3 separate regions of the Homo sapiens genome follow, and all the other regions are linked to region 1. Evidence: fine-mapped expression QTL. A gene starts in region 1. Each other region holds a variant in brackets. All regions are shown on one strand. Distances are between the middles of the regions. Region 1 holds the start of HPCAL1 (hippocalcin like 1). Region 2 overlaps HPCAL1 (hippocalcin like 1). Region 3 overlaps HPCAL1 (hippocalcin like 1).

Evidence for each region. PIP is the estimated chance that this variant, and not a neighbour inherited with it, causes the effect.
Region 2: its variant is fine-mapped to the expression of HPCAL1 in whole blood (INTERVAL, PIP above 0.99).
Region 3: its variant is fine-mapped to the expression of HPCAL1 in neutrophils (CEDAR, PIP 0.93).

Annotation. Positions count from the first base shown.
Region 1 is chr2:10,297,911-10,306,088 of GRCh38, reverse strand. It overlaps HPCAL1 (hippocalcin like 1), which reads right to left and starts at 3,185. Exons shown (of 5, transcript NM_002149.4): 1 at 2,912-3,185. It overlaps LOC101929691 (a long non-coding RNA gene), which reads left to right and starts at 3,372. Exons shown (of 4, transcript XR_922791.3): 1 at 3,372-4,511; 2 at 5,076-5,247. RefSeq lists silencers at 2,291-2,470, 2,789-2,986, 2,871-3,650, enhancers at 2,551-2,610, 7,872-8,166 and a cis regulatory region at 7,665-8,178.
Region 2 is chr2:10,330,034-10,338,206 of GRCh38, reverse strand. The region is part of intron 1 of HPCAL1 (hippocalcin like 1); the gene reads right to left. Among named protein-coding and RNA genes, the nearest start is that of HPCAL1, 31 kb to the right of the region's middle. RefSeq lists enhancers at 6,007-6,594, 6,424-6,623, 7,154-7,253 and a silencer at 6,994-7,043. The variant T/C (reference allele first, on the strand shown) is at 4,539.
Region 3 is chr2:10,397,908-10,406,085 of GRCh38, reverse strand. All of the region lies in intron 2 of HPCAL1 (hippocalcin like 1), which reads right to left. Among named protein-coding and RNA genes, the nearest start is that of SNORA80B, 45 kb to the left of the region's middle. The variant C/T (reference allele first, on the strand shown) is at 3,208.

The sequences.
Region 1 (8,178 bases):
GTTCATGAGTGAGTGTGGTACTCTACCACTTATGAGTAGCAAAAAGGGTCTTAGAATAAGTGTCACAGGGAGACAACTGCTCTGACGCACACTCAGCAGGGCATGCACTGTACCCGCGCTGCAGACCTTGGAACTGTGCTTGCAGAGCCCTGAAGGTAGGGGGTGTGAGCACCAGCGCTTCAACAGGAGGAAACAGCTCCAGGGTGAAATGGTGCTAGGTGAGTATGGGGCGCCTGGCTGGGGCGTTTGCACCAAGCGAAGTCCAGTCCTTGTCCTTCCATAGACTGCACTTCTAATTCTGCACAGCCCTGTGGCCAGAAAGGGGACGGAGTGTGTCCACGTTCTTGTATTTCACTTAGAATCTATCTCTAGGAGGGCTTGTTGGAAATAAATGGGTCATTGGCTGGAGTTTGGGCAAATCTCTGTTCTTCTGGGGTTTTGACTTGTTCTGGTTTCTCCACAGATCAAAGGACCTTCCATTTATTGGATTCCAAAGACAAAGTCTCCCAAATTGTTATCACACATTGACATTTCTGTTCCACCTTAAAAACAGCATGAAAGTGGGACGCAGAGGGAGCAGGCAAGGCTAGAATGTGCCACCGTGGCACCACATCCCACCGCAAGGGAGAGGCAGGGCCCCCGGGCCTTCCCTTTGCCACATTATCCAATAAAACCTCAAGAGCTCAGTAATTACAGGCACTTTCAAAAGTGAAACAGAAATAGATCTAAGGCCAAAACACTGGCTTGCTTGAGACAAAGGGCTGGCTTTAACTAGAAAAAAACAAAAACAAAACAAAACACAAACCTGGGTTTGGGTCTGTCTTCTGAGCTGAGAAAGCCAGACTGATTTTTTTTTTAATATTATTATGGAACCTGATTATGAGGAAAGAGTAGGATTCACACCAAAAGCCCTTTTTTCTTGTAGGACATAAAATCATTTGATGAAACAGAAAACAGGGTGCATTCTAAGTGTGCCCCTGTCACTAAGTCAGGATGAAAAATGAGAAAATGAGTTCATCGCATCCCCCTGGCCTGCCATGGCTAGGATTGCAGGGCTTCAGTCTCGGCCGAGGGAAACCAAAGGAACCGGACCAGGTTTCTATCCCTGGCTCCTAAAAGCCCGCAAAGCAGCCCGCCTCTCTGGGAACACCATCACGTAGCCCCTGACAGTTGGGAAGCGCATCCATACCAAAAGGCCGCCCATGCTGTCCCCTCCGCAGCCCAACCCCATGCCGGCGCTCCATTTTGAGAGCCTCCTGCACTGGTGAGATCTTGGCTCCCTTGGTTAAAGGCGATTTTTTTCCCCCAGAGAAAGACACCAAGGCGATGAAGGGAAAGAATATCCTTCGCTCTGGCCGAGAGCCACCCGACCCCTAGAGCTGGCCTTGCTGCGTCCGAGCCAGCGCCGAGGCGCCAGAACTCTCCAGAGAGTGAGTCGTGGTAAGAGCTGGGTGCTCGTTCACTGCGGTTCAATTTTACGACTAGTAGGTTTCAAAAGTAAATGTTTTAAATTAAGGTGTGGGACTAGGAGGAGGTGTCCCATGTGGCACCCCCGGCATGAGGCTGGCTGCAAGGGAGCAGGGATGGCAGGGGCTGGGGCTGGGGGTTGTCTAATGCCGAGGCCAGCAGCTGGACTCGGCGTCCCTGGCAAACATCCTCCTCTGGTGGAATTGGGGTCAGCCAGGAGGAAAGGGGTGGCCTTTGGCGGCCGGGACACCCCGGGAGCCCGAGATCTGCATGTGCGGGAAGCGCCAATTTTACGCCGTGACTCTCGGACTCCACGAGCTGAGCTGCATCCTCCCGGACTAGGAACTTGTTGAACCAAAGGGTTCTCAACTCCGCAGTCGCTGCCTCCCGGCCAGGAGAGGGACCCCCACGCTTGCGCGGGAGCCTGGGGGCTGGGGCAGGGCCGGCGCCCAGCGCGGCGCTCTCGGGCACTCGCGGAGGCGGCGCCGCCCGGGAGGTGCTGCAGGAGGCAGCGCAGCTGGCAGCTAAACTTTCTCGAATCTCAGTGCTTCGCGGTTAAGTTAGGGCCAGGGAGAGGCACAAAACACGCCCGGGGAAAATGTAAGGCCCCACCCACGATAAAGGGGAAAAAAAAAGGATTTTAAACAGGAGACGCTAATCCAATTAACACAGTACCTACTGTGTGCGGGGCTTTGGACCAAGAGCTGTCTTCAGTGCGTTCTCATTTCACCTGTCACCACAGCCCCCAAGGGAGGAGCTGTCCTCATTTTAAAGAGAAGCAAACCGCGACCGGGGAAGGTGGCGCGTCTGGCCCAGGTCGCAGTGCGGGTCGCGGGGAGGCCAGGGCTCTCCTCGTCGCCCCATGGCCCTGGGAGGAACGAGCGGATCGCCTCCGCGTGGGCCCCCACCCTTGGCAGAAGCTCACAGGCGACCCACGTGGGCCGCACGGACCTGTTCCCTGAGGGCTGCCCAGCCTGCCCGCGAGGCCCGCCCTTGCCCGTCGGGTCCCAGCTGTCCTCGAGGCTCCTAAGCTACGCACTGCGCCGACCAGCAGGGACAGGGGGCTCTGGGCGTGGGGCTGGACCACCCACACCCACCCCGCCACCCCGCTCTGCGCACAGCTGCTCACACACGACACCCGCCAGGCACCGCTCCCCACCAGCAACTGCGCCCCGACACACAATTCCACAAACGCAGTCCAAAATGTGCACACCTAAGGCACACATGGATGCCCACGAGTACACGCCATTCGAAAGACACACCACCGTCCGCAGTCACCCACAACTCCACCGCGCAGAGAAACGCGGGCACTCCCGGACACACACACGCGCGCACAACACACACGCAAAGAGCCGGATCGCAGCGCTCGCCGGTGCACACGCCGGGTGCACACGCCCGGGGCACACTTCAGCAGCCAGCAGACCGCAGCCCGCCCCTTCCCTACCTGCTCCGGCGCAGGACGCGGTCCGCCGGCTTCCCGAGCCCAAGTTCGGCGCCGGCGGCGGCTGCAGCGGGCCCGGGCCGCTGCCCGGGACAAGCGCGCCGAGGCCGGGAGGAGTGACTAGCAGCGCGGGCCTCCGTGCGCCCGCAGCTGCTGCGCCGGCCCTGCGCTCATCGCCGCCCAGAAAGACAAAAGGAAGCCGGCAGCCAGGGAGGGAGCAAGGTGGAGGCGCCCGTCAGTCCGCCCGTCCGCTGCCCGCCGCCGCCGCGGCCCGCCTGCCAGCTCCGGGAAGGAAGGGACGCGAAGGCGGGACCTGGAGGCGGGACCCGGAGGCGGGGGCCGGGGCGGGGCGCGCGGCCAGAGGCGGGCGCTCAAGTTTCCTACGGCCCCGCCCCCTCCGGGCCCCGCCCCCTCCACGCCCCCTGCCGGACCCTCAGCGCCCGGCTCGGCCCTCGCAGCCCCTGCACCTCGCTGCTCCTCGGCCCTCGCGGCCCAAACCTGGCCCTGCCGGGTCCCAGCCCCCAGTGGCTTTCGGGACAGGGGCGGAGCCGGGCACCGGTTCTGTTCCCCTAACCCTTGGCCTCTGGCCTGCTGGTATAGAAGAGGCCGAGAGGCGGCGCCCGGGAGGGGCCAGCCCTGCGCCCGCGCCCCCCGCCCCCACGCCGCAGGAAGTGGCCCGGGCGGCCTAGGAAGGGGAAGAGCCGAGTTGCCCCAGCCCCGCACCCCCAGCCCCAGCCCCGCGTGCAGCTCGCACCCCTTCCCACGCCTGTTCGGGGGAGAGCCCCGGGCCTGGAGTGGGAAGCCTGGCTCCAGCTCTGGTTACCTGCAGTGACTCCCCAGGCCGTTTAGGCGAGTCCATTGGGCCGCCTCTGCCTCGGTTTCCCCACCTAACCACGGAAGGTGCTCCTCCCTTCCAGGCATCTGTGGTCTTCGAGCTCCACGCGGGAGAGGCGCCGGTCTGGCACCTCCTGCCCAGGGTCGGCGCCTCCTGGCTCTCGGGGAGGGGGGCATCCTCCATCCCCTGCACCTGCCTCGAGAGGAACCAGGGACAGAGCACCCCCACCCCCACCAGGAGCTCCGGAAAAACGGCTTCAGAAGAGCAAATATACACACACACCCACCTCCCGCCCCAAACATCCCCGAAGAAAGGTAACCACAGAAACAGCCAGAAATGTGGAGCTGGGCGATCGTATGAGGCTGAGACAAAACTGTCTTTCTAGCGTCTCTAGGGGAGAGCTTGAATCCCTCCTTCCACTCCTCCTCCACGGAAAACAGAGTGAACTCCTGCTACAGAGGCCGCCAGAGCAACATGCAAGACCAGCTTTGAGGGGAGCGGGCACAGGGCCTTGCAGGGAAGGTGGGCCGAGCCCAGACCCCTCATTCTTACTTGGCTCTGAAGGCGGAAAGGCAAAGCTAGACCTCGAGGAAGTTCCCCTCCCTGTGGGCCCTACAGTGAAGATTACATGAAGGCATGTGGGCGGTGGACCAGAGTGCACCGACTGATGAAGGCGGCCCGGTACCCGCGGGTGCCATGCCTCCTTCTTAGCCAAGGCCACTCTAGCTCCCCGTGAAGTATCCAGGTAGAAGGCTGGTGGGGTTACAGGTGAGAAGCCGTCGGTGGGGTCCAGGAGCCAGGCCTGGGGAAGCACACGTCACTTCCACCCACATCCATGGGCCAGAAGTAGTCGCACAGTCCCACCAGGATGCAAGGGGCTCTGGCAGCTGTGGTCTTCATGAGTGTTTCGGAAGTAAACAAAGCCGGTTTGATGAACACGTAGAAACATCCCTGCCACAGAAACTGAGCAGATTTCTCCCAAGCACACACAGGGCAAAGGGGCAAAGTCTGTCCACAGACTCACAGGAAGGGAGGTGCATGGCAGACACAGGCAGGAGGTGGGGTTGGGGTGGAAAAGTTCAGGGAGGGCTCAAAAGCAGACCAAGGCCTGTTTCTGAAACCCAGCCCACTCACTGGTTCCTCCACACTTGGCCCATGCTGTTCCTCTCCCATGTGACTTTTCCATCTTCCCCCTCCAACCTGTCACCCATCCATCCTTCAAAACTTAGGTCAGTTAGCTCTCACCTAGCCCTCAGCAGCTTAGCCCGCAGATGCTTCCTCTGTTTCTGAACTTCTAGAGAAACACACTTAACCGCAGACCTCTTATTCCAGGAGTGTATCTCTCTCAGATGAGATACAAGTTGGTCCCTTCCCTTGCGTCCCTCCTGTTCCTTCAAGAGGAGGACTGTCTACCCACCCCGAAGCTTCATGGAGAGAGAGCACACCGTCGTTATTCAATATGTAGTTTTGAATTTAACTAGAGCAAAGAAGAAAGCAAATTCAGGTAAGATGTTGTATAATTTCCTGGGGCTAATGTAACAAGCACCTCCAACTGGGCAACTTAAACAACAGAAATGTGTTGTTTTGTAGCTCTGGAGGCTGGAAGTCCAAGATCAAAGTGTTGGCAGGGCTGGCCCCTTTGGAGAGATGTGGGGGGCAGTTTGTTTCATGTCTGTCTCTTAGCTTCTGGTAACCTCATGCATTCCTTGGCTTATGGATGGCCATGTGCGCTCCCTGTGAATTCACATCTTCTCTATATACCTGTCTCTTTTCCCTTTTCATAAGGACACAGTCATTATTGGATTAGGGCACACCCTAATGACCTCATCTTAACTTGATCATCTGTGCAGACCCAATTTCCAAATAAGGTCACATTCACAGGTACCAAGGGTTAGAAGTTCAGCATCTTTTGAGGGAAACAATTCAACCCATAACAGGTGTCATGCTAGATAAACAATTTGTTTTTCATATGATGACTGTAAACAAGACAGAAGTAATTCTGATTGTTCTTAATATCTGACTTAGTTTTATGACAATTTTTTTCTAACTTTTATTATAATATACACATAACATAAAATTTATCATCTTAATCCTTTTAAAGTGAACAGCTCAGTGGTATTAAATACATTAATGATGTGCAACCAGCACCACCATCCATCTCCAGAACTCTTTTCATCTTGTAAAACTGAAACTCTATACCCATTAAATAATGACTACCTCTCTAATACCTTACATAAGTGGAATCATACAGTATTTCCTTTTTGCAACTGGATTATTTCACTTAGCATAATGTCCTCAAGATTCATCTATGATGTAGTGTATGTCCAAATTTCCTTCCTTTTTAAGGCTGAGTAATATTTCCATGTGTGTGTATACCACATTGTGTTTACCCACTCGTTTGTCAAGAAATCATTGGGTTGCATCCACATTTTAGCAATTATGAATAATGCTGCGACGAACATGGGTGCACAAATATCTTTTCAAGATCTTATTTTCAGTTGTTTTGGGTATATACCCAGAAGTGGAATTGCTGGATTATGTGGTCATTCTATTTTTAATTTTTTGAAGAAGCATCATAATAATACTTTCCACAGTGTACCATTCTACATTCTGCCAAACAGTGCACAGGGTTCCAATTTCTTCACATCCTCACCGCCAGCACTTTGTTGTTGTTGTTGTTGTTGTTGTTGTTGTTGTTGTTGTTGTTGTTTTTGAGACGGAGTCTTGCTCTGTCACCCAGGCTGGAGTGCAGTGGTGTGATCTCGGCTCACTGCAAGCTCTGCCTCGTGGGTTCACGCCATTCTCCTGCCTCAGCCTCCCGAGTAGGTGGAACTACAGGCGTGCGCCACCAGGTCTGGCTAATTTTTGTATTTTTAGTAGAGACGGGGTTTCACCATGTTGGCCAGGCTGGCCTCCAACTCCTGACCTCAAGTGATCTTCCCACCGCAGCCTCCCAAAGTGCTGGGATTACAGGCGTGAGACACCGCACCAGCCCGATTTTGCTTTTTGATGCACCAAATTTTTATGAAATCCAATTTGTCTATTTTTCTGTGTTGTCTGTGTCTTTAATGTCATATCCAAGAAATCACTGCCAAATCCAACATTGTGGAGATTTTGCTCCAAGTTTTCTTCTAAAAATTCTATAGTTTTAGGTTACTTTTAGGTCTTTGATCTATTTTGAGTTAATTTTTGTATATGGTGTTAGGTAAGGGTCCAGCTTCATTCTTTTGCATGTAGATATCCAGTTTTCCCAGCACCATTTGTTGAAAAAGCTGTCCTTTTGCCATTAAGTGATCATGGCACCCTTGCCAAAAATCATTTGACCATATATTCAAGGGTTTGTTTCTGGGCTCTCTATTCTATTCTATTGATCTATATGTCAAGCTTTATTCCAGTGCCACACTGTTTTGATTACTGTAGCTTTGTGGTAAGTTTTGAAATCAGGAAGTGTGAGTCCTCCAGCCTTGTTCTTTTTCAAGATTGTTTTGGCTGTTCAGGGCCCCTTGAGATTCCATATGAATTTTAGGATGGGTTTTTCTATTTCTGCAAAAAATGTCATTGGGATTTGGACTTTATTGTTTCTGAAGTACCTTTACATACACTATCTCCGACATTCTAAAGATTGTTTCCATATTTTACAGATGAGGAAAGCTATACTTGGAAAAATGAAATGTCCAAGGCCACATATTAGAATCAGCAACAGCCAGGTTTAACAGCCAGATTCAGTGTCATTGTGCTGGGCCCACACAGGCTCTGGAAGAAATACTATTCTTTTTTTAATTCCTTGTAGCACTTTAATACTTGAGTGTATATCCACCAGGGAGAATCTTGCAAATAACATTGTTCCAGCGCACAAACTCCTGCCCCAGAATGTTTGAGGAAGTAGAGGCTAGCTTGTTTCTAGGTACTCTTTTGATTCTATTCCCCAGTTTCATTTGTAATTACAGAGTGGAGAAATGCAGCTGCTGGGAATAGCATGGGTGACGCTGACTTAGGGTAGAGGCAGCATCTCTGGCCACCCAACCTTCCCCTGACCCCAGGAGCTCACAGGCGGAGGAAATGCCCTGATAACTCCCCAGCAGCAGCTGCAGCAGGAAACCAAAGCCGTGCCTGGAAAGGGGAGAGTTGGAAATTTACCATGACCAGTCAGCCAGCAGAATCACTGGATCCTGCCTCAAATCTGTAGATGGACCAGAGCTGGGAAAATTGGATCATTAGGTCAGCTTGTTTATCCCTGAGGCACGCTGTTTTGTAACCACTCCTGATACAGATGCTGTGGCCCATGGCTCATCCAGGAAGTGTGACTCAGAGGCAGGTTCCGATGCCACCCCCCCACCCCCGCTCTTTCCCCTTCATCCTTGCAAGCTCAAGATAAACTAAAATATCCCCTCCCCTGCTGTGGACCACCACCACCCCAATTCCTTTGTTGAAGCCC
Region 2 (8,173 bases), 32 kb before region 1:
CCCTTAGGAGTCGCTTCCCATCCCTCCTCCCCACTCCCTGCAATCACGAATCTATTTTCTGTCTCTTTAGAATTGCCTATTCTGCACCGCTCATGTACACAGAATGATAGAATATGTGGTCTTCTAAATGCGCCACTTCTAAAAAAGTCACTCTCCTTCATAAACAGCCACCTCTCTGCAGTTCTGTTGACTAACAGGATTTATGGAGCTCCCCTGACTTTCTCTAAAAATAGTAAATCCCCTCCCCAAGTCCAGTGATAGTCAGTGATACCTAAATACAGACTAAGCCGGCGCAGCCATGGCCGACCCATCCTCAGAGGGCAGGCTCGGAGGTACTGCCGGGAACATTGACAGAGACCATTCCTAAGAACCAGCCTGCACCTCCTGGGGGACTGAGAAACCAGCCACTGAGGACTGTGAAAAACGGGGCACAAGAGCAGGAAGGGAAGGTGGGAAGGAAGGGGCTGGGGGAAGATCTTAGCCACAGCCTCCAAAGGCCAGAGTGGAGGAGAAAGAGCCCAGAACAGAGCAGGGCCAGGGTCTACGCCTCATCCCCAGCTGTGCAGCCCAGAGCACATTTCTCAGCCTCTCTGAGCCTCAGGCACCTTGTCAGTGGAGGAGTGGAGAAGCACCTGCAACCCCACAGGGAGGCTGTGAGAAGTAAATAAAACGTGGAAATAATTTGAAAACTACCAAGCTAGATATGCTGTTATAGTCACGGTGGGCAACCGGGGAGCCAGGGACTATTTCTACCTAATAATATTGTTCTTCTTTTTTAAATGGTCATCAGGATGAATAATTACCTATAATTCACAGCAAATGCAGTGACAGTTAAAACCTAGCTGACATAATAAATAGTAAATACTTTACAAATATGCATATTCCTAATGTAGCAATTCTACTTGTAAGAATACGTGAGGAGGCACGAAGACACGAAAGGAGGGGGAGGCAACTGCTCATCACAGCACGTGGTGAGTGGTCTTGGCTCAAAATCCTCCCTCCCTGGCCTCCCTATGGGAGGGGTCTACTTCTAACCCCGCCAACACTGGTTGGGCCCCAGGGTTTGCTTCAGCCAATGCAATGTGAGGGGAACTGACACGCACCACATAGCCATTCCCACGTCTGAGCAGAAGCTTTAAGAGGTATATTGTTCCTGCCGGGTCCAGTGGCTCACACCTGTAATCCCAGCACTTTGGGAGGCTGCGGTGGGAAGAACACTTGAGGCCAGGAGTTCAAGACCAGCCTGGGCAACATAACAAGGCCCCCATCTCTACGAAAAATATAAAAAGTAAAAATTACCCAGGTGTGGTGGTGCATACCTATAGTCTCAGCTACTTGGGAAGCTGAGGCAGGAGGACCACTTGTGCCCATGATTCCGGGGCTGCAGTGAGCTATGATAGCACCAGAGCACTGCAGCCTGGGTGCCACAGCAATATCCTGTCTCTAAAGAGGAAAAACAGAAATAGAATTATGTTGTTCCACCATCTTTTTTCCCTCTGCCATGAGACCAGCAATGTCTCAGATGGGGCTGCTCTGAAAGCCTGGCTCCCTGAGGGACAACGTCATAGAGCAGAGCCACAACCAACAGGTGATGGTCATGTCACTTGAGGGACAAAGAATTCTTCATTGCTGCAAACCACTAAGATTTGGAGGGTCATTAGTACCAGAGCATAGCCCAGCTGACCGACACACAGTCATGTTCCTACTAATGCAAAAGTGCAAACAACCTACACGTCCACCTAAATAAATAAATGACCCATCTCCACAATGGAATGTCAATAAAATGATGTATACATTGGCATAGAAGAACATTCTCAATACGCTGCTAACTGAAAAAAGCAGAGTATAAAATAGCATGAACTGACAAAGGATTAGTCTCTAGAGTGAAAAAAAGAAAATCTACAAATCACTAAGAAAAAGATAATCCACCCAAAAGGAGACTGGACAAAGGATATGAACATGCAATTAATTTACAGCAGAGGATACGCACATGCAATTAATTTACAGCAGAGGATACGCACATGCAATTAATTTACAGCAGAGGATACGAACATGCAATTAATTTACAGCAGAGGATACGAACATGCAATTAATTTACAGCAGAAGATACGCACATGCAATTAATTTACAGCAGAGGATACGCACATGCAATTAATTTACAGCAGAGGATATGAACATGCAATTAATTTACACCAGAGGATACGAACATGCAATTAATTTACAGCAGAGGATATGAACATGCAATTAATTTACAGCAGAGGATACGAACATGCAATTAATTTACAGCAGAGGAAAGCAGAAAGGACAATAATGTATCGAAAATATGTCCAACTTCACTAGAACTTAGGGAAGTACAAATTCAAATAATCATGAGATACTATTTTACACCCATCAGAGTGTTCAGATGTTAAAGTCTGACAACACAAGTGCCGGAGAGGTATGAGGAAAAGGAGCTCACTGACCCTTGTAGAGGGGAGTGAAACTGCCACAAATGCCTTGGAGATGAATTTAGTAATAAACAGTACTGTTGAGCGTGAGAATACCATAGCACCTGGCAATTCCACTGCTAAATATTCTAGACCTCTAAGGAATTCTCAGGGTGTGCTCGTATTGGTTATCTGTTACCGTGTAACAAATGACCCTCCAAAAGTCAGCAGCCGAAAACAACAAACATTATCTCACAATTTCTCTGGGCTGGGAATCTGGCTCAAGGTCTCTCATGAGGTTCCCCTTTGCTGTTTTCAGGGCAGCAGTCTCATCCGAAGGCTCAGCTGGGAGTGGGGAGCGGATGGAGATCTGCTTCCAAGCTCACTCACATGGCTGTTGGCAGGCCTTGGTCCCTTGTCACCTAGGCCTGCCTCTCCACAGGACTGCCTTGAGACATGGCATCTGGCTCCCTCCAGGGCTGGCAATCCAAGAGGGCAACAGAGAACACCCAAGCTGGCAGCTGCAGTCTTTTTATAACCTGATGTCAGAAGTGATGTCCCATTCCTCCTGCTGTGTTCTATTTGTTAGAATCAAGTCAGTTAAGTCCAGCCAACACCCGAGGGAAGGGATTACACAAGGGTGTGAAGACCAGGATGTGGGGACCAGTGGCGGCATCTTAGAGGCTTCCTTCCACAGCACTCAAGGAGGATCAATATTCATATGGCACTCTTTATACTAATGAAAAAATGGAAGTGACCTAACTGTATATGACTAGAGAAACGATGGCTTATTTAGACAATGGGGGCTGGCACAGTGGCTCACGCCTGTAATCCCAGCAATTTGGGAGGCCAAGGCAGGTGGCTCACTTGCGCTCAGGAGTTCAAGACCAGGCTGGGCAACTTGGCAAAACCCTGACTCTATAAAAAATACAAAAATTAGCCAGGCATGTACCTGTAGTCCTAGCTACTTGGGAGGCTGAGGTGGGAAGATTGCTTGAGCCTGGGAGGTGGAAGTTGCAATGAGCCGAGATCGTGCCACTGCACTCCAGCCTGGGTAACAGAGCGAGACCCTGCCTCAAAAAAAAGTCAATGGAATTGTATACAGCAGTTAACAAAAAGGAGAAAAAAGAAGACCATGAACCACATCTATGTATCAACATGGATACAGCTTAAAAATTGTTGACAAAGTAGTCAAGAACAAATTACAAAGTGATATATATATATACCATTTATGAGTATTTCTTTCTGTTTTCTTTTCTTTTTTTTTAAAGACAAGGTCTCACTCCACTCCATCATCCAGGCTGGAGTACAGTGGTGTGACCACAGCTCACTATCACCCCAAACTCCTGGGCTCAGGAGAGCCTCCCACCTCAGCCTCCTGAAGAGCTGGGACTACAGGTACATGATGCTGCACCCACCTAACTGTTGTTGGTTTTTTTGTTTGTTTAAAAAACAAAACAAAACAAAACAGGGTCTTGCTATGTTGCCCAGGCTGGTCTTGAATTCCAGGCCTCAAGCCTCCTCCTGCCTCAGCCTCCCGAAGAGCTGGGATTACAGGCGTGAGCCACCATGCCTGGGCCACCATTTATGAGTATTTCTAACACATAAAAACTAATGTTTTGTTTAAGGTTACGCACATGTGTAGCAAGAGCGTAAAACGCGCACAAATATGATCCCTACTTCCCTCCGCAGAGTGGCTATTGGTCACTGGGGAAAGAAAAGAGTAGAGAAGAGGAGAGATGGGCTTGGGCTGGCTCTGTAATGCTCTACTGGAATTTATAGTACAATCAATCAAAATAAAACAAAAATATGGTCTTATTTTTGCTAAAACATACCCACATTTCTGTTACACATATCTACAAAGCATCTGTAAAATCTGGACACAGATGACATTATTTTATTCCTTTACAGGTTGATGTTCTTGATGGCATTAGGTCTCTTCACCTATGTTTCTAGACTTTATGCACACTTCTGGAGAGGCAGAAATGAGTCTGGAGGGGTATAGCTCAGAATGCTAATAAAAGTTATATGGAGGTGGGCAGGGTAGTTATGGGGGAATTTTTTTCTCTGTTTTTCTGTGTTTTCCAGTCTTACCAAAGAGACATAGAATAT[T/C]TGGGTAAAGAAATAAAAACTTTCTTCAAAAATCAAATCAAACTCAAAGCCAAAATGGCCACAGCTGAACACCAAAGCACACCAGCTCTGAGAGCACAGAGCAATTCCAGGAAGGTTTGCCTGGGAACACAGCTGCCCACGTGGGAAGAGAAGGTGCTGGGCCACAGGAGGCTGGCTTAGGCTGGCTTGGGCTACGGTGATACATCTGCCAGCAGGATCCCGAGAGGTGCCAAGAGGCTGCAGCCCACCCATCCCTGGAGGGAATGGCCTCCTGACTTTGCTGAAAGGAGGAAGTTGTGAGGCCAGGCTGGCTCCTTGACCTCCAACAGACAGCAGGGGTCAGATGGAGAAACGTTACACCAGTTCCCCAAGACAGACACAAACATCCACAATTCACTGTGACCACCTGATTCACGCTCCTTGGTAATTTCCCGAGTCTCTCCTGTGAAAATGCATTAGTTTTATCGTAGGGAAATTAGTAAACTTTAAAAAGAGAAGAATCTTTGTCTAGCATTTACAATGCCCAAGAGGCTGATTAAAGACCCAGTGCAGAGATCGTCAGCAGGTCAGGCCCCTGGTGGCAGCGTCCAGGCGTCATGGGGCTCAGGCAGGGCCCACTGTGCCCCACACATCCAGTGAGCCCTGAAATCTCCCACAGAGCCCCAACAAAGACCCACCCTGCCCCTCCCCCCTGCACCCCTCACCCCAAGATCAAACTTCACTCAGGCTCCTCTGAGCCCTCTTTCTGCCTCCTGTCTTCAGCCTGCCTGGCCCAGTCTCAGCAAGAATCCTGCTTAGTCAGTTTAGTGAGCCTCTCACGCCCTTCACATCTGACCACCCTTGAGATCCAATCAGTCCTCATCCCCACCTTTGACATCAAAGTCCCCCCCTGCCTTTGGCAAGAATCCCCCTACCTGTGATGTCTTCTCGCAGCTACTTTCCACTCACCCAGCCCACTCCACTTCCCAGCTCTGTCCCTTCCTTGCTGTATTAGGAGTTGGGCTGATCTCTCCCCTGCTGATAAGGTCAACCCCGACTGCATTTTCCTCGAATAAAGCTGTCCTCACTGTTTTAACAAGCGTCTGACTCTTATTTTCCTCCAAGCCTGCAGCCCAGCTAGGGAGTACAGGGGCCCGCTTCACCCCTTCCCTGCACGGCTACCCCCCACCTCCCACCCTGCCTTGCCCACCCTAGGCAGAAGCTGTTCTAGATAAGGGGCAGGGGGCACCGAGGGGCTTCCTGAGAACCGCAGAGGGGCGGGCCAGGGGCTAGAGAGGAAGGAGGAGGGTTCTAGAGAAAATGGAAACCTGTGGGCAGATGGAACTTTGAAAAAAGGAGAACATCATGATGCAACTCAAATGAAGCTTAAATGGAAGGAAATGGTAAATGCTCAGATCAGATGGAGAAGGAGGGGGAAGAAGCTGACGGGATCATGGGTGGGTGGAGAGAGCAGTCAGGCTCTGGGCATGACCTCAGCCAGGTCGAGGTACTTCCCCTCTGAAGCCACTGTCCTGTGATCGTCCCCAAAAGCAGGAAGGGAGAAGCAAAGTGAGTACACCTGACAACGGGTGACAAGGAGCGCTCCCTCTGAAGCAACAAGTGACACAGGGCTCATAAATGACAATGGGTGACAAGGAGTGCTCCCTGTGAAGCAACAACAGGTGACACGGGGCTCATAAATGACAATAGGTGACAAGGAGTGCTCCCTGTGAAGCAACAACAGGTGACACGGGGCTCATAAATGACAACAGGTGATGAGGAGAGCTCCCTCTGAATCAACAGGTGACACAGGGCTGTCTCGTAAATGACAACGGGTGACAAGAAGGGCACCCTCACCACACACAGGCAGCAAGCCCAGCTGGGGCCACCACAGGATTGGCCAATGTCACCAAGCAGTTGATGGCGGCTTGTTTATGTCCCCATCCACAAAAGACTAGAAACACCATGCCAGACGGGGAGAAAGATGCATGCGGGGGAAGAGACAGATGCCTCTGACAGCCGGGCGTGCAGTGGGGGGCAGACAGCCTCACACCCATCCCTGGACCCCGGGCACAGTGCAGCTGGGCCCAAAGCACACACTGACTTCAGCGCAGCTCCACCACCAGCCAGCGCTTGGCCGTGGAAAAGCTCCTGGGAGGGTGTTCCTGCCCCGGAAAACCTCGCTGCTGCATCCGTTCCACCAGCAAGGTTTCCTGAGTGTCTCCTGGGTTCAGAAACGGTGTCCTGTGGGACAAGGGACATGAAGAAAGGAGCCAGCCCCGTGCCTGCAGAACTCCGAGCTCCCCGGGGAGACAGGAGGAAACGCAGGAGGAGGGGTGACGATGCGTAGGTGGCGAGGTGAGGAAGGAGAGGGCGCTCGGGTGACAGGAAGGGCGCCTGTGGGCTCAGGAGGCAGGAGAGGCGGACGTGCTGAGTAACAGGCAGCCAGCACCCTGTGGCTGGGCCGGGGGCACCTGGGGGCAGGCAGGAGAGTCCAGGCTGTCCCCAGAGCCCGCCCCGCCCTCTGCAGGCTCTTGGCAAGGCCCGCATGCAGTAAGAGGGTGCGGTCACTTGCAAGGCTTAGAGAAACCGCTCCTGCAGCCGGGAGAGCAGATGGGAGGCCACGAGATGGAGCGAGAGGCGGGATGAGGAAGAAGCCAAGATGGCAAGACACAGAGAACTGGAGAGGCCGGGGCTGCAAAGGAGGCACAAGCAACAGGCTTCCCGCTAAGGCTCTCCGAATGCAGGGGTGGGCTTGCTGCACCCCCAGGCTGCACCCAGAAGCTCTGACTCAACCAGCACGGTGTGGGCCTGGGAACCTGCATTCTCACAAAGATGATCGGGGTCCGCAGTCGGAGACACACTGACAGAGAGCCCCTGCCGTGGGCAGGAAGTGAGTTAACGTGGACTGAGTGTGTCCCCCACAAAACCCCTATGTGGAAGCCCCAATCCTTACTACCTCCAGATGTGACTGTATTTGGACACAGGGACTTTGAAGAGGTCATGAAGGTAAAATGAGGTCACTGCGTGGCTCCTGATCTAGGGCTGGTGTCCTCACAAGGAGACTGGGACTCAGACACACTCGGAGGGATGGCCGTGTGAGAACAGAGGGAGAAAGGGCTACACGGAGCCGAGGAGAGAGGCCTCGGGTGACACCAACCCTGCCGCCACCCTGTCTCAGACATCAGCCTCCAATACTGTAAAAAAAAAAGAATTCCTGTTGTTTAAGGCACCCAGACTATGACCCCGTTTCCAGCAGCCAGAGCTGACTAATACACCGGGAAGGTTAGACGACTCAGGGCTTGGTGGGGAGGGGCAGGGTGGCCCTTGCTCCAAAGCTGCTGCCCTTCGCCACTCTCCTATGAGGACTAAATAAGAATAAGCATTCTGGGAATTGCAAACATCCACCAAAAAGTCAGGAATTCTCCTTTTGTCCATGTCAGAAGCATCTAGACTGGGACCTTCTGAGCACGACTCACCAGCCCCCATTCCCTGTGGCGCCGACAGACAGCCCCGAACACAGCATAAAGGCCGCTCTGAAAAAGAAAGCATCTCTAGCTTGCCACATAAATTGTGCATAGTCTCTAAAAGGAAAAAAAAAAAAAATCAAAGGACCAAGATTTAAATAACAGGAAGTGTTTTGAGGGTTGAAGACC
Region 3 (8,178 bases), 100 kb before region 1:
GTTGATGACAGCAAGGAGGGGTGAAGGGGAGAAACAGTAGAGGCTCAGTGTGCCCACCTCCCCACTACCCGGTAATGCTCCATAGAACACCAAGAATAATTCTATTACTATTCAATCACACAACAAAAACTCAAAAGCTGAAACAACCATGTGAATCACCCAACGTCCCATTTGCGGGGACTTGGCGCATACTGCAAGCTGACTGCTCTTTGGGAGAAAATGTAAGAGGGCACAGCAGGCTGGAGATACTGAGGCTTTAGACGCCCCTTCATCAGTCCCTCTAGATGTGGCCCCTCGTGCAGTCAGCCAGAGCTGGCAGGGCGCTGCTCCTGCCCGAGGCCCCCACCCTGGCTTGGCTGTGCTGATGACGCCTGGTGATTTGGCATGCCAGCTCCCAGGCATCTTGGAGCGCATTCTTCCTGGCTCTTTGTGCCAGCTGCAGAATGACTCAAGCACTGACCCATGCCTGGGGGGAAGATCTACGCGTCAGATGGCAGAATTCCGTCTGCAAATTCCACCCTGATGTTCCAGGCCAAGAGGTGAGCAACAGCCCTTCCCCAGGGAACCGTGTTTCACCCTAGCGGGAGCAAAACTGAGACTACGGGGCCAACTCTGCTGTCGAGTGCCTCAGCCTGCCCTGCCAGCACCCAGCACGCCCTGGAGGGGCCATGGAGGGACAGGCAGCTCTTCCAGGGTCTTGGAGCCATGCCCTGGAGTCAGGCAAGGCTGGGCTAGAGTTGCCAGTGTCAACGCTCCAGACCCAGCCTGTTTGCTCCTCTGTAAAATTGAACCAGAATGCCAGCTTCAGGGGCCTGCAGTCAGGATGAGGGTGTGTATATGAGGGGTGCTGCTGGGAGCAGCCCGCAGACCCAGGGGCCCTGCTGGGGGCTCTGCCCAGCCTGCCCCGTCTCCAGCCATATGGTCCTGGCTGTCTCAACTTCTCTGGGCCTTATTTTCCTTGACTGTAAAATGGGAATAAGGGTCCCTGCCTGCAGGTTCTACTGAGCAGTTGTGAGGATAAAGGGAAATGGAATCTGTAAAAGGAGTGCCAGCTGGAAAGCACCAGTCAGATGCCTGGGGTATTGGCACAGCTTTACAAGAAAGGCGGCCATCTTGGGAGCCGATTCCTGACACTGAGCACAGCCCGGCGGGAGGTGGGGGCTGCGGCCTGGGCTCGGTGGAATCTCTGCACTGCCTGGCGAGCCCTTCTCGCTCGGCACACCCAAGCAGCGGCATTAAAACCTGGTCCTGAGGCCCAGCTGGGCAGAGAGCCTGGGACCACGGTGGCCTAGACACATCCAGCTGGGGCAGGGTGAGTGAAATTCCAACTCCTGTTCTTCAAAGAGAAAATAAAGAAAAAGGACAGAAGAAGCCCAGTCATGCCACAGCAGGGCAGAGCCCACTCGGTCCAAGATGCAAGAACTGCCCGACCCTGGGGCAGCAAAGGAGCCCGGGATCTGGGGGCTGCTCAGCGCCTGCAGGGCATGGGAGTGAGGCTGGGGCTGCCTCAGGGCATGAGGTCCCTCCTCTCATCTCCGTCTCTGGGGAGTCTGTGGCTGCTGACTGCTTTGGGTCTGTTTAAAAGGAAACGCAGCATCCTGCTGACCAGCACAGGCCAGGCTTTCTGCAGGATTTTGCAGACAATGTAGGAGATGGTCCCAGACTTACCCAGAGCGCTGGGGCTGATACCTGAGCTCAGCGGGGCTGGGGAAACACTCACCCAGCAAAGACGGGGTGAGGGGCATTCCAGGAGGAATCCTCAGTGTGCTGGGAGGCAAAAGGGCATGGCTGGAGAAGGGCTGGCGGGGACACAGCTGGGGAGGAGGCCAGAGTCTGGCTAAGGTGGGAGCTCCTTCCAGTCCCAGACTTCATCCTGGGGTGTTTTCAAAGTGTGTAGGTGTCAATGACTCGCAGGCCCAAACTTTTGGGGAGACCACCACCAGCAAGTAACTTGTCCCTGCTACAAACCTCTGGGCTGGTGACCTCTGCATGTACCTTCATGGGTAATGAATGGACAAATGATAGAGAACATTATGGAGCAGTGTATAGAGCAATAAAGAACAAACAGAATATGGAACAAATGGGTACATTAACAAATGCAGGGTATGGGGAGGAGAGGCAGCCAGAAGAAGGAAGAGAAAAATACCATCGAAACTTAGGAATTCAGACCAATTACTTGAATGGTAGTTCAAATTTGTAAAGTCCGAGTCAAAAAAATACCTGAAAAATTGCCTCTGAATTCTTGATCAGGTAAGGACTGGAAAGAGTGGGCGTTTGTAATGAACGGATAAGAACTCTTTGTTGGCCGGACTCGGTGGCTCACACCTGTAATCCCAGCACTTTGGGAGGGTGAGGTGGGCGGATCACCTGAAGTCAGGAGTTCAAGACCAGCCTGGCCAACATGGTAAAACCCCATCACTACTAAAAATACAAAAATTAGCCAGGCATGATGGCAGGCACCTGTAATCCAGCTACTCAGGAGGCTGAGGCAGGAGACTCATTTGAACCTGGGAGGCGGAGGTTGCAGCGAGACAAGATCACACTACTGCACTCCAGCCTGGGTGACAGAGCAAGACTCCGTCACACACACACACACACACACACACACACACACACACACACACACACACAAAAGAACTCTTTGTTATGAGGGCATCATTTTCAACTGCAGAATGGAGCTGGAGGCCTGGGTGACAGTGGCTATGTCACACACCCTGACGGCTCTCACTTTCCTCATCAGGGTCCAATATGTGTTTGGACAGTGTGGCCCCTGAGGTATGAGCTAGCTCTAAAAAACATCCTTGAGAAAAACATTTAAAAATAAAGAAAAATAAATAAATAAATAGAAAACTTCTTTGAGTCTATCCCCAGAGGAGGCTTCCAAAGCACCTGAGGAGCTGCTCACTGAGCCAGGACTGGTGTCCCTCTCCCCGGGACCTTGTTCAGCAGAACCAGCTGCCTAGCTCTTGTCTTAGTAGATGGTAAAAAGCAACATTTCTGCCAGGTCCCTGCTTGAGAAATGACTAAACTTGATCAGTTCATGAGCCCCAAAGGAACTATTTCCAAATTTTGAATTTATGTGTCCCAAATGAATGGGGTTTGGCCACATTGTAATATATCTCGGGTGGAAACCATTTGTAAGAAATACCATTGTAAATGTTAGACTGAAGAGGTGTTTGTGAGACGCGCGTCCTCCCTGGGGTTTTG[C/T]GCAGGCTGCATGGCTCTGTCTGCAGGGCAAGGTCCACCCTGTGCTGTGCTGCCCACGGCTGAGCTCAAGGTGGGAGGGCTCTCAGGTGCCTGCCTGGTGTCCACACCAGCACACCCGTCAAAAACTTTTTCTTTAATTCTTTTTTAAATTTGGAAGGGAACCTCCAGTGAATCATCACATGCATTATTTGATTCATGTTTAATATCTCTGGGAAGCAATAAAAACAATAAATCATTATTAATAAAATGGCCTCAGCCCGGCTGAAACGCTAGGCACAGAATGGTGATGTTCCAGCCGCCCTCGGTGGCCCCAGCAGCTACAGTCTGGAGTTAACTGTTGGCAAGTGACTTATCCATGATCACCCAGGCCTCTGACTCATAGAGAGTGTGTTTATAATCAGGAGTGGGGCAGCTCATAAAAGCCACTCTTTGCCATCTTTAGTCTTTAAATCACAGCACCAGAGGCCACAGATTCTGCAGGGAGAGTTGTGGCAACGCACCCACCCATACACACAAAGTGTAATCAACACGCAGTCACGGAACACCCCTTACATGCAGGCCACAATGCTAAGTGCTGGGAAGACACCGAAGTGTAAAACGCCCTCAGAGCGCTTCCAGTCTGGTCGGGAAAGCAAGACAGGAACTCCTTCTTTCCTTCTCCTACCAAGGTTCAGTTCCTGGCCGGGTGCGGTGACTCATGCCTGCAATCCCAGCACTTTGGGAGGCCGAGGCGGGCAGATTACCTGAGGTCAGGAGTTCAAGACCAGCCTGGCCAAGATGGTGAAACCCCGTCTCTACTCAAAATACAAAAATTAGCCGGGCGTGGTGGTGCGCGCCTGTAATCCCAGCTACTCAGGAGGCTGAGGCAGAGAATCGCTTGAACCCAGGAGGCGGAGCTTGCAGTGAGCTGAGATCACACCACTGCACTCCAGCCTGGGAGACACAGCGAGACTGTCTCAAAAAACAAAAACAACAACAACAGCAAAAGCTTCAGTTCCTGCTCTGAGCCTGGCGCCGGGCTTGGGTGCTGGATGGCAGAGGGAGACAGCATTCCAACATGGACCAGCAGCCTCAAGCCTCCAGCTTCCCAGCTGGGCCCCAGTTCTCTCCTGACCCTTTTCCCAAGGACAGAGAGCTGGGTTCCATTTACCCAGGGTGTGGCTAGGAATAATCCCATAACCAATTATTAGCACAGCGCCTAGAACACAGGAAGCACACAGTAATTGTTTGACGAGAGGCAGGAAGGAAGTCAAGGAGGGAGAGAGAAGGTCCGGGTGATCTAGGCGCTCCTTACAGACAACTTCCAAATCCTCTGCAGATCCGGCCTTGGAATAGTGGATCTTCGGCCACCGCGGCACTGTCTGTGCACCCTCCGAGAGCCCCATCAGACACATTCTAGCCCAGATAGTCTCTAGCCTCAGCAAAAGAGCCAGTTTCCCGGAGACCCTCTGGGGGCCTAGGAACACCCAAAAGAACAGATATTTGCTAAACATCGTCTATGATCCCAGTGATTACTTCTAAGCTAAAAATTTGCACATGGGGTCTGAGAAGTCCAAGAATATTCTAGGGGGTAACTGAGAGAAAACGTGTAATCTGGGCTGTCCCAGAAATACCAGGCCCTGTGCCTGGTGTGGTGCTGGATGCCTGGGGAAGGGGAGCAAAGATCACTGTGGACTCCACCTAGAGAGGCCGGTGACATGGGTGGGGAGGAGCCTGGCTGGCTCGGACCTGGCCTGGAGACCCGGGGCCAGCAGGCAGCAAGGTCAGGGGAGTGTCCTTGTGCAGCCTCGGCTGTGGCTGCCTGTGTGGCTGAGCAGACTAAGGGGCAGGTCAGCCGCCCTTCCTTCCACCTCTGCCTGGCATCTCCCAACCAGATGGGGAGGCTAGGCCGGTCTTGCTCATGTGGGATCTGGATGCAGCCCTTCACACAGAGCCCGACATGGAGCAGATGCTCCGGAGATGCTGACGGCTAGGATTCCCCCGCCAGGCACCTGGCGGTCCTGCAGAAGGGCCAGGACAATGTCCCCAGCCCTCCACCAATTCCAGGGCAGATGAGAATGCCAAGTTGTGCCTGCCCACAATGTGTGTATGTGTGTGCGTGTGTGTATGTGTGCATGTGGGTGTGTACGTGTGTGCAGGCACGTGTCTGCCCACAATGCTTGTCAGACAGGATCTGCCCTCCGTGGCTGAGGGCTGGAGGGGACGACCACAGGAAGTGATACTGCCAAGTCATCCCAAGTCACCCTAAATATAACCCTCAATGTACAACACAGGAGGATTGTCCCTTCCCCGCTGCCCTGCCTCATGACCAGCGTCTGCCTAGGAGGGCACTTCCAGAAAGGCCGCTCAGATGGCTCTCTGAGATGCCCGCCTGGGATCCACGGCCTGGCCAGCACTAGAGGGGAGGCAAGCCTGGGGTCCTGCTCTTCCGGCCCCAAATCTCCATGGCCCTGTTCATCTAACTTCTTCCAGAAGAATTGTTGGCTACACAAATCACTATGAGCAACAATGATCTCTTAAGCCTGGGAGGAGGCATCCTTATTTAAGGGACACAGAGGGCTGCCGTATGGTGGGGGTCTGGCTGTGCCGAGATGCTGCTCGCACCTGTCTTCCTCAGCGGTCGGGGTTGCCAGCGTCCTGCCCCTCAGGTGTGACCCACTCCGACCTGGCTGAGCCGCCTGCTCGCCCCCTCCTTGCCACGGGTGCACGTCTGCCACAGGCCCTTTGCACCAGCTGCTCCTTAGCTAGAAGCACGCCCGTCCCTGACCTCCTGCAGGCCTTTGGTCAGGTCTCATCTCAGGAAGGCCTTCCCCAAGCACTCTATCCAAAACCGACACTCATTCTTTATCCCCTTTCCAGCTTGATCCTTTCTCTCATTTCTGTTTTGTTGAGTTCACTGTCTGTCTCCCCTTGAGTGGAGCTCAAGGTCCTTGGGGCCAGGTTTACTCTGGTCTGTTCTCCATCAGAAGCCCAGAGCCTGGAAGCTTGTCTGACACAGGGTACGTGCTCCATGAACCCACCTCAAGGGAAGGAACGCATGAGTGTCTGGGGACGTGGAGAGGGAGGCTGGTAGGGGAGGCTGGGACTCGAGCCTTAGTATGCAGGTGCTGCTTCTCCACTGCCCGGGGAGCGGCCTGCTGTACATGACCAAGGGCCAGGGGCAGAGAGAAGCGGAAGGCCCTTCCAGTGCCCATCACCTGACCCACAACATCCACGGCCAATGGTGTGAATGTGCTGGAAAGTGCCTTCTGATCCCAGAGTCCCTCAACTCGTGGTGGTGGTGGTGGCGGTGGCGGTGGCGGTGGTGGTGGCGGTGGCGGTAGTGGTGGCGGTGATGGTGGCGGTGGCAGTGGCGGTGGTGGCGGCGGTGGTGGTGATGGTGATGGTGGCGGTGATGGTGGTGATGATGGTGATGGTGGTGGTGGTGGTGATGGTGATGGTGGTGGTGGTGGTGATGGTGGTGGTGGTGGTGGTGGTGGTGATGGTGGTGGTGGTGGTGGTGGTGGTGATGATGGTAGTGGTGGTGATGGTGGTGGTGGTGGTGGTGGTGGTGATGGTGGTGGTGGTGGTGGTGGTGGTGATGGTGGTGGTGGTGGTGATGGTGGTGGTGGTGGTGATGGTGGTGGTGGTGGTGGTGATGGTGGTGGTGGTGGTGGTGGTGGTGGTGGTGCAGTGATATTATTTGCTGTGCGTGCACTGAAATGCCCCAGGGGTCTGGGGATGGGAATGGACACCTCGGACCACCTCCTCTACCCTCTTCTGATCTCTTCGCCTGCTCCAGCTTCTTGACACGGGTATCAGCCTCAGCACGACCTGCCGGGCCAGGCGCCTCCCCTGTGCACCCGTGCTGACAGTGGCCTCGGGCCAGGACATTTGTATGCAGGTGACATCCAGGTAACACGGACCCAGATGTTCCCCCACTCTCTAGCTCCAGTAAGGCTGGTGGATGGAGAATGAAGGAGTGGAAGTGGCCCCTTCACATGCAGTTGTGTCTATTTTCTGCTGAGAAAAATACTTTTTTCTCAGCTAACCACACGCTAACTGGCACCCTGAGGCTGAGGCCCCAGCCTGGATGTCTCCTCCCAACCCAGCAGCTACTGTGGCAAGGAGAAAGCGGAAGGAGAAATCGCCTCCCTCAGGAAGAGGAAGGCAGGAAAACCCACCCCACCCACGGGATGCAGATCTAAGGGCGGGGCAGGGGACGGGCAGAGGGTGGGGAGCTCACTTTGCCCTGGAAACACCACGTGCGTGCGTTGGTGCCCAGCGGGAAAGCAGCCACGCCCGGGGTCTGCCCTGGGCCCTGGGCTGACCGGCTGCGGGACTCACATCTACCAGGGCCACAGATGAAACCTGCCACTGGTATCTGCCCTCCACCCCTCACACAGCCCAGAACCCCATCATGAACACTGAAATTAAGACAGTGATGCTTTAACAGGTTTTGGGTCCAAATTTTAGCCTGGCTGAGTATTCAAAGGTGGTTCCTTCTGAGTGGGAAGATGAAAATTATAAAGAGCATCTCCCGTGTCTAGGGCCAAGAAAATTCCAGACTTTTGGAAAGCGACTTTGTATGAGGACTTGGAGGACTTTAATCCTTATACAGGACCCTGCCAAACTCACCAGATGCAAGTCGGTGATGAGGGCTCTCAGGGGCTGGGCATGGCCAGATGGGGCTCTGTCCCCAAATGTCCCTCCCCCAGGTGTCCCCCCGGGAGCCTATGACAGCTGACCCTTGCTACATCCATGGCCCCAACTGATGCTCACAGTATGCAGGAGCAGGTGGGGCAGGGTGGTGAGTGACAAGAGTCACCATAATAGTCATGAGACCATGAGAGGGAGGAGGGAGAGAGAGGAGGAGCTGTGGGGCAGCCAGGTCCTGCTGGTCCAGATACCACAGGGACACTTCACTCCAGGTCTGATCTCGCATTGACCCTGAAGAGGGTGTTTTTATCAACCTTAATATGCACGAGATTG